Linked DNA regions of Homo sapiens. The gene in region 2 interacts genetically with the main gene of each other region. Each region holds a gene or a part of one and is shown on either strand. Other genes may lie near its edges. The genes, in order: DICER1 and ARIH1.

The links.
Region 1: changes in ARIH1 (region 2) and DICER1 together harm fitness more than expected from each alone (negative genetic interaction), as found in Homo sapiens cells (one large-scale study listed by BioGRID).

The regions. Positions count from the first base shown.
Region 1 is NC_000014.9:95,147,363-95,151,181, forward strand, and holds part of DICER1 (endoribonuclease Dicer), read right to left. Parts: intron 1-3,819. UniProt on the Homo sapiens protein: Double-stranded RNA (dsRNA) endoribonuclease playing a central role in short dsRNA-mediated post-transcriptional gene silencing.
Region 2 is NC_000015.10:72,480,792-72,484,610, reverse strand, and holds part of ARIH1 (E3 ubiquitin-protein ligase ARIH1), read right to left. Parts: intron 1-3,819. UniProt on the Homo sapiens protein: E3 ubiquitin-protein ligase, which catalyzes ubiquitination of target proteins together with ubiquitin-conjugating enzyme E2 UBE2L3.

The DNA.
Region 1 (3,819 bases), on a different chromosome or scaffold from region 2:
GGCTGAGGCGGAAGAATCACCTGAGCCTGGGGGGCTGCAGTGAGCCATGATCACACCACTGCACTCCAGAGTAAGACCCTGTCTCTAGAATGAATGAATTAATGAGTAAAAACCTCCCCCGTTAAGGCACAAAATGTGGTAACATTTACCTGAATATCTGAGTGGGAAAAAACACACACAAACTGTTTTTCCTTTGTTCTCACACACCACATAAAATTTCTGTGACCAAATGTGTGGGGTTTCTCCCCAACAACAAGCAAGCCATCAATTCTGCAGCGGACACCAGCTGGGTGTCTTCTATTAATGACTGAATTCCAACATTATCTACCTGGAGATAGCATCAGATCCCACAGGTTGAGGGCTCCAGTCCTCAAGACCTCCCCCACCCTTCCGTGTCAATTGCAAACCTCAGGTTATTTTTTGCCCGTGCTCCCGACCAATCAGTTAACTGGGGTTCCCACAACGCCCTCCTGGGATTTAACTTGCTAGACCAGCTCACAGTCCTTGGGGAAAAACTTACTTATGTTTACCAGTTTATTATAAAGGATATTACAGGCTGGGTGCAGTGGCACACGCCTGTAATCCTAGCACTTTGGAAGGCCAAGATGGGAGGATCGCTTGAGGCCAGCAGTTCGAGACCGGCCTGGTCAACACAGCGAGAGTCCATCTCAATAAAAATAAGTAAATTAATTAGGTAAAGGATATTACAAAGATCCAGATGAAGACATGCACAGGGTTAGGTATGGAGAAGGGGTATAGAGCTTCCAAGCCCTCCCAGAGCAAACTGCCCTCCAGGAACCTCCATGTGTTCAACTATCCAGAAGCTTTCCAAACTCTGTCCTTCAGGGTTTTTATGAAGACTCATTACCTGGGCATGATTAACCTTCAGCCCCTCTTCCCTCCCCAGAGGTTGGAGGGTGGGTCTGAGTCCAAACCTCTAATCATGCCTTAGTCTTCCCAGTAACCAGCCCCCATTTTGAAGCTACCAGGAGCTACCGGCCACCAGTCGATCATTAGCATACAAAAACACATCACTTTGGAGATTCTAAGGATTTCAAGCCTTGTATGCCTAAGAATAGGGTAGAGGACAGACCAAATATATATTTTACAGTATCATAGTACCTACAATTTAAACCACAAATTCATTAGCCTTCTTTTCATGCATTACTGTATCTGAACCAAATAAATTTCTGGGTTTCTCTAAATCTCTAACATAAATATGTTATGTTTAGATTTCAATATAATCATGCCTAAAATTAGATTGGTCCAAAATTGAAGTGGAACACAGGTCAAATACCATCTTAACAAATTCCACCCATCAAAGATCTCCATATAAGAAGTGTCTCCAGGCTGCAAGCCAAAGGTCCGCTTACTTCTTGGAGTACTTCTCAGAAAGATGACATTTCAACACATCAAAACAGCACAGATACCCACCCCTCCCCTTCAAGTTACCTATAATGACATTTGTCCTACAGTTTTGTTTCAAGAGACATAAATACTTAACACATCACTAGCTTTCAAGGTGAGTTTTAAGGTTCATATTTGATTCCAAGTTTCTGTACTTTACTCTTTTTTTTTATTTTTTATTTGGAGACAGGGTCTCACTCTGTCTATTTACAGGCACCATCAGAGCACATTACAGCCTTGAACTCCTGGGCTCAAGTGATCCTGCCATCTCAGCCTCCTGAGCAGCTGAGACTACAGGCACATACTTTACTCTTAACACTGTGCAACGAGTGCTAGAATTTTATTCAATTCACGACTACCCTCTACCTTTACACCAAGAAAGAGCATCCATTGGGAAAAAGGAGCCACAATTTTCTCTTTGTCAAGCTGTTTTAAGATATATAACATGAATACTTAAATACTAAAGGGAGGTCAATCCAGAGACAAAATGAACATAAGAGACTACTGAGTTAAGATGGATGTTTATTGAGACAGGAAAGCAAATATATTAAAAGGTCCAGGCAAGAGTGTGACGCACTACATCATCATAGCTTCTGCGCAACATCTCATGTTATCTGCCTTTCCCGTAACACCAAAACAAGTGTGTACCAACAGAGTTCGCCACCTCTCACGAACCCCACCCCACAACTTTCCCTAAAAACCTCTATCACTTTAGTCCCCTCCCCTCTCATTTAGCACACATGGGCTAGCTACAACACCCAAATCATCACGGGCTTCATTATATTACTGCCCCATATATTAGCTGTTATTGCCATCTCCCTCAAGAGTATTAAGATCTTTGAAAGATAATCTCATACTATACTCACATTCATATTACATAGTTCATGATTTGTTTGATTTTCACGTTACTGTAAATTTGTAATGACTAGGTAGTTTGGAATGTAGGAAAGTAAATATCCATGAATAATTTTTTATTAATTAATTCGATGTTGAGAATAAGCTTTATTGATCTTAACTATTGAATTAAAGCAGCTTTTTATAGGTCAAATATAAAACTCAAATTAGACACTTTTAAATTAAAAGACTTTAAACAACCCAAATTATTTCAACAAGCTTAACATCCTCGATCTTGGCACCCAAGTCCAAAAGAATAATTCGAGGCTAACTAGAAACTGTCAAAGCTAGAGAGGTATCAGTTAGTGCAATGATAATTTTGGTATCATCTGACTATACCCATCCTAGTTTTCTCAGTTAACTTCCAACCACTACAAAATTCTCTTCCATATTAATGCAAACTAATCTGACTCCAACCTTGAAGATGTTTCAGAAACAATTTTAAAGTTCTTAAAGTTACAGGTGCAACTGGGAAAACCCAACTCAAGACAGTCTTATTTCTCAACTTAGTTTCTCATTTTACAAACTGTATTTTGTAGGCCGGGCACGGTGGCTCATGCCTGCAATCCCAGCACTTTGGGAGGCAGAGACAGGTGAATCACTTGAGGTCAGGAGTTCGAGACCAGCTTGGCTAACATGGTGAAACCCCGTCTCCACTTAAAAAATACAAAAATTAGCTCAATATAGTGGCTTGCACCTGTAGTCCCAGCTACTCAGGAGGCTGACACAGGAGAATCGCTTGAACCCAGGAGCCAGAGGTTGCAGTAAGCTAAGATCACGCCACTGCACCCCAGCCTGAGAGACAGAGCAAGACTCAGCATTAACAACAACAAAAAAGAAATCGTATTTTGTTAGGTTTAAAATTCAGGCGAAACTCTACTGAATGTCAACTAATAAATGTAGAAGGAATGACAGAAAAGTCACCATTTTTAACCATCACATTAGTGATTGAAGCAAGGATCATTAATGGATGCTAAAACCATTGGGTGAAGGTTACTAAAGAATATTTACATAGCCTGAAAGCTTTTCTGCAGATTACCTACTAATTACAAATGAAAACTAGTATTTTTATTCAGTGGAAAAACCAGATAGATACCCCTTTAATCCAAGTGACAAAGCTAAGATCACCAGTATTAGGACAAACTGACAACACATACCTAATGTAGTTTTCCTACTGAAAGTACAAAACTTGAATCTATTTTTGCCGGGGGAAAGAGGGGAACAGAGTCTCGCTCTGTTGCCCAGACTGGAGTGCAGTGGCACAATTATAGCTCACTGCTACCTCAAACTCTTAGGTTCTAGAGATCCTCCTGCCTTGGCCTCCTAAAGTGCTGAGATTACAGGAGTGAGCCACTGTGCCCAGCTGAAACCTGAATCTAATCATAAGGAAACATAAAACCTAACTTGAGGTTTATTTTACAAAACACTTGGCTTTATACACTGAATTGAAGTATGATTTCAAGGATGATGTGTTAATTCATGCATAGCAGATGAAGAATGTGTTATTTAGGGAAAGTT
Region 2 (3,819 bases):
TAAAAGGGAATGAGTTAATGGCATTTGCATCAACCTGGATGGGATTGGAGACTTATTATTCTAAGAGAAGTAAATCAAGAACAGAAAACCAAACATTATATGTTCTCACTCATAAGTGGGAGCTAAGCTATCAGCATGCAAAAGCCTAAGATTGATATAATGAACTCTGGGGACTCGGGGGAAAAAGGTGAGAAGGGGGTGAGAGATAAAACACTACAAACTGGGTTCAGTGTATATTGCTCAGATGATGGGTGCACCAAAATCTCACAAATCACCACTAAAGAATTTACTTATGTAACCAAATACCACCTCTTCCCCAATAACCTAGGGAAATAAAATTTTTTGGAAAAAAGAATATGTGGGATTTTTGCATTATTTCTTGTAACTGCATGTGAATCTACAATTTTCTTTTCTTTTCTTCTTTTTTTTTTTTTTTTTTGATGGAGTTTCACTCTTGTTGCCCAGGCTGGAGTGCAATGGCATAATCTTGGCTCACTGCAACCTCTGTCTCCTGGGTTCAAGTGATTCTCCTGCCTCAGCCTCCCGAGTAGCTGGGATTACAGGCGCCCACCACCATGCCCGGCTAATTTTTGTATTTTTTTAGTAGAGACGGGGTTTCGCCATTTGGCCAGGCTGGTCTCGAACTCCTGACTTCAGGTGATCCGCCTGCCTCGGCCTCCCAAAGTGCTGGGATTACAGGCGTGAGCCACCATGCCCGGCTGTGAATCTACAATTTTCTATTTTAAAAACAGTAATGAAAAAAATCCCCAGGTGATTCCATTACGTAGCTAGAGTTAAAAAAAAAAAAAATCAGTAAACTGGAGAATCTCAAATTCCTACCAATTCTGAGACTACAAGCTATTTTAAACTTAAGCCACTGAAAGGTTATTAGGAATGTTTATCATTTACAGGTATAATGTTTTGCAAAGCCAAAAGTAATTAATTTACGGTTAATCCAAAATAAAAAATCCAAAACACTATGTTCTCCCAATAGCATACAAAAAGATTGGATAGAAAGGCATTATACAATAGCTGTAATTTACCTCTTAACAGAGAGAGACAGAGACAAACAGCCGGCCTCTAAGATAGCCCCCAAAGACCCCTGCCTCCTGGTCTTCACATCTTTGTATAATCCCCTCCGATTGAGTATGGGCTGGATTTGGTTATTCACTTACAACAAATAGAATATTGCAAAGTGATGCGACGTTACTTCTGAAATTAAGTTATAAAAACTTTGTGGCTTCCATCGTATGGGCCTTTTCTCTAAGATCCCTCACTCTGGAGGAAACAAGCTACTGTGTTGTCAGCCACTTTATGGAGAGGCCCACATGGCAAGGAACTGATATCTCTGGGCAACAACCAGCCAGTGAAAATCTGGCCTGGTCACAGCCAAATGAGTGAGCTCGGAAGGGGAAGCTTCCCCAGTCAAGCCTTGAGGACTGCTACCCAGGCCAGACACGGTGGCTCATGCCTGTAATCCCAGCACTTTAGGAGGCTAAGGCGGGCAGATCCCTTGAATTAAGGTGTTCAAGAGCAGCCTAGGCAACATGGCAAAACAAAAAAATACTGGTCTCTACCAAAAAACCCACAAAAACAAAAAAATAAGCTGGGGTGTGGTGGTGCACATCTATAGTCCCAACTACTCAGGAGGCTGAGGTAAGAGGATCACTTGGACTCAAGAGGTGAGGGTTGCAATGAGCCGAGATTATGCCATTGCACTCCAGCCTGGGCACCACAGCAAGCCTCTGTCTTTAAAAAAAAAAAAAAAAAAGAGAGAGAGAGAACTGCTACCAAGCCGTCACCTTGGTTGCAGCCTTGTAAGAGACCATAAGCCAGAGGCCCCCAGGTAAGCTGCATCCAGAATTGTGACTCACAGAAACTATGATATAACAGATCCTTGTTTTTTTAAGCCACTAAGTTTTGGGGTAACATAAGGCAAAAGATAACCAATCTACATAGTTACCACAGGTCAACCCCAAAAGAATCTAATGTGATGACTTCTGCTTACCTTTCATCACAGTATTTAATCTCCCAGGTTCTACATTATTATCCAGCATTTATAAGCTCCATTCTACTTTAGCTGATTTCACCATTACCCAAAAACTCTCCTCATTCTCACCTCATTCAGTTCCTTAGAATGACTTCCTCTTTTTTATCCACCCAAATCCTAGCCATCTTTGACAACACCTACAGAGGTCTCTTCCATGAGTATCTATTACTATCCACTTATTTAAATTACTCACTAACCTAACAGCTTTAACTCTAAGAGATTCTCAACTCCTTAAGAATAAGTCTTCTCATATTCCTTTAAACAGGACTTTATATCTATCCAGGACTTTATATCTCTTCCAGCATACTAATAAATTAGAAAACTCAACATTCTATATTAAAAAAATCTAGGACTGGAAGGGAAATCAAGAACTCCAATCTAGAATGTCAGATGTCACTAGTTTAGTTTGTCTATTTGAAAATACTGGCCGGGTGCAGTGGCTCATGCCTGTAATCCCAGCACTTTGGGAGGCCAAGTCGGGTGGATCACCTGAGGTCAGGAGTTCGAGATCAGCCTGGCCAACATGGTGAAACCCCGTCTCTACCAAAAATACAAAATTAGCCGGGCGTAGTGGTGGGCGCCTGTAATCCCAGCTACTCGGGAGGCTGAAGGAGGAGAATCGCTTGAACCCAGCAGGCGAAGGTTGCAGTGAGCCGAGATGGCGCCACTGCACCCCAGCCTGGGCAAGAGAGAAAAGACTCTGTCTCCAAAAAAGAAAAGAAAAGAAAAGAAAATACTGAGTAAAGACCACCTTAGCTGAAGGATAGCATAGCATGAAGGATAGCATCTACGATGACAAACATCTTCCAACCCTATGATTAGCCTAGTAAACGTTGCCTAGGTTCTGGAAATTTTCCCATTATTACCTTTTTTTTGAAGTAGAGTCTCCCTCTGTCACCCAGGCTAGAGTGCAGTGACACTATCTCAGCTCACTGCAACCTCCAATTCCCAGGTTCAAGCAATTCTCCTGCCTCAAGTCTCCCAAGTAGCTGGGATTACAGGCACAGGCCACCACGCCCAGCTAGTGTTTCACCATATTGGCCAGGCTGGTCTCAAACTCCTGACCTCAAGTGATCTGCCTGGCACAGTCCCCAAAGTGCTGGGATTACAGGTGTGAGCCACCGTGACTGGTCCCCTATTATTAGTTTCTTAAACAATTTATCTTCCCTCATTAACCCACCTCTGTAGTAATCTATCACTACACGTAACACATAGAGAAACACTGCTATTAAATTTCAACTACATCAGCAGTTCTCAAACTTTAGCTTGCATCACCATCACCTAGAAGGCTTGTTAAAACAGACAGCCAGACCCCATCCCCAGAGTTTGATTCATAGGACTACTGCCATAGCAATTCAACAAGTCAGTGTAATTTAAACTTACAGCTCAAGGAGATCAGCTGGGAAAATATAAAAGTCCAAAAGAAATAAATCTAAACTATATCAAACACTTTAATAACTTCAAAACACATGTGCCTGCACACATCATGCACAGGCTTGTACACCCTCTTCCTCCTCTCCCAATTAATGAACATAACCACAATATGCACACCTGAATTCAATTTCTTGGAAAAAATGAACATCTCCAATTAACTGAGGTTTTTAAAATGATGTTAAACGAATAAAACACTTAATGTAAAAAAGGACCAACCTAGTATTTCAACTCCCTCATTTTCAGTCCCAGATTAAAAACAAAACAAGGCCGGGCAAGGTGGCTCACTGTGATCCCAGAACTTTGGGAGGCCGAGGCGGGCAGATCACCTGAGGTCG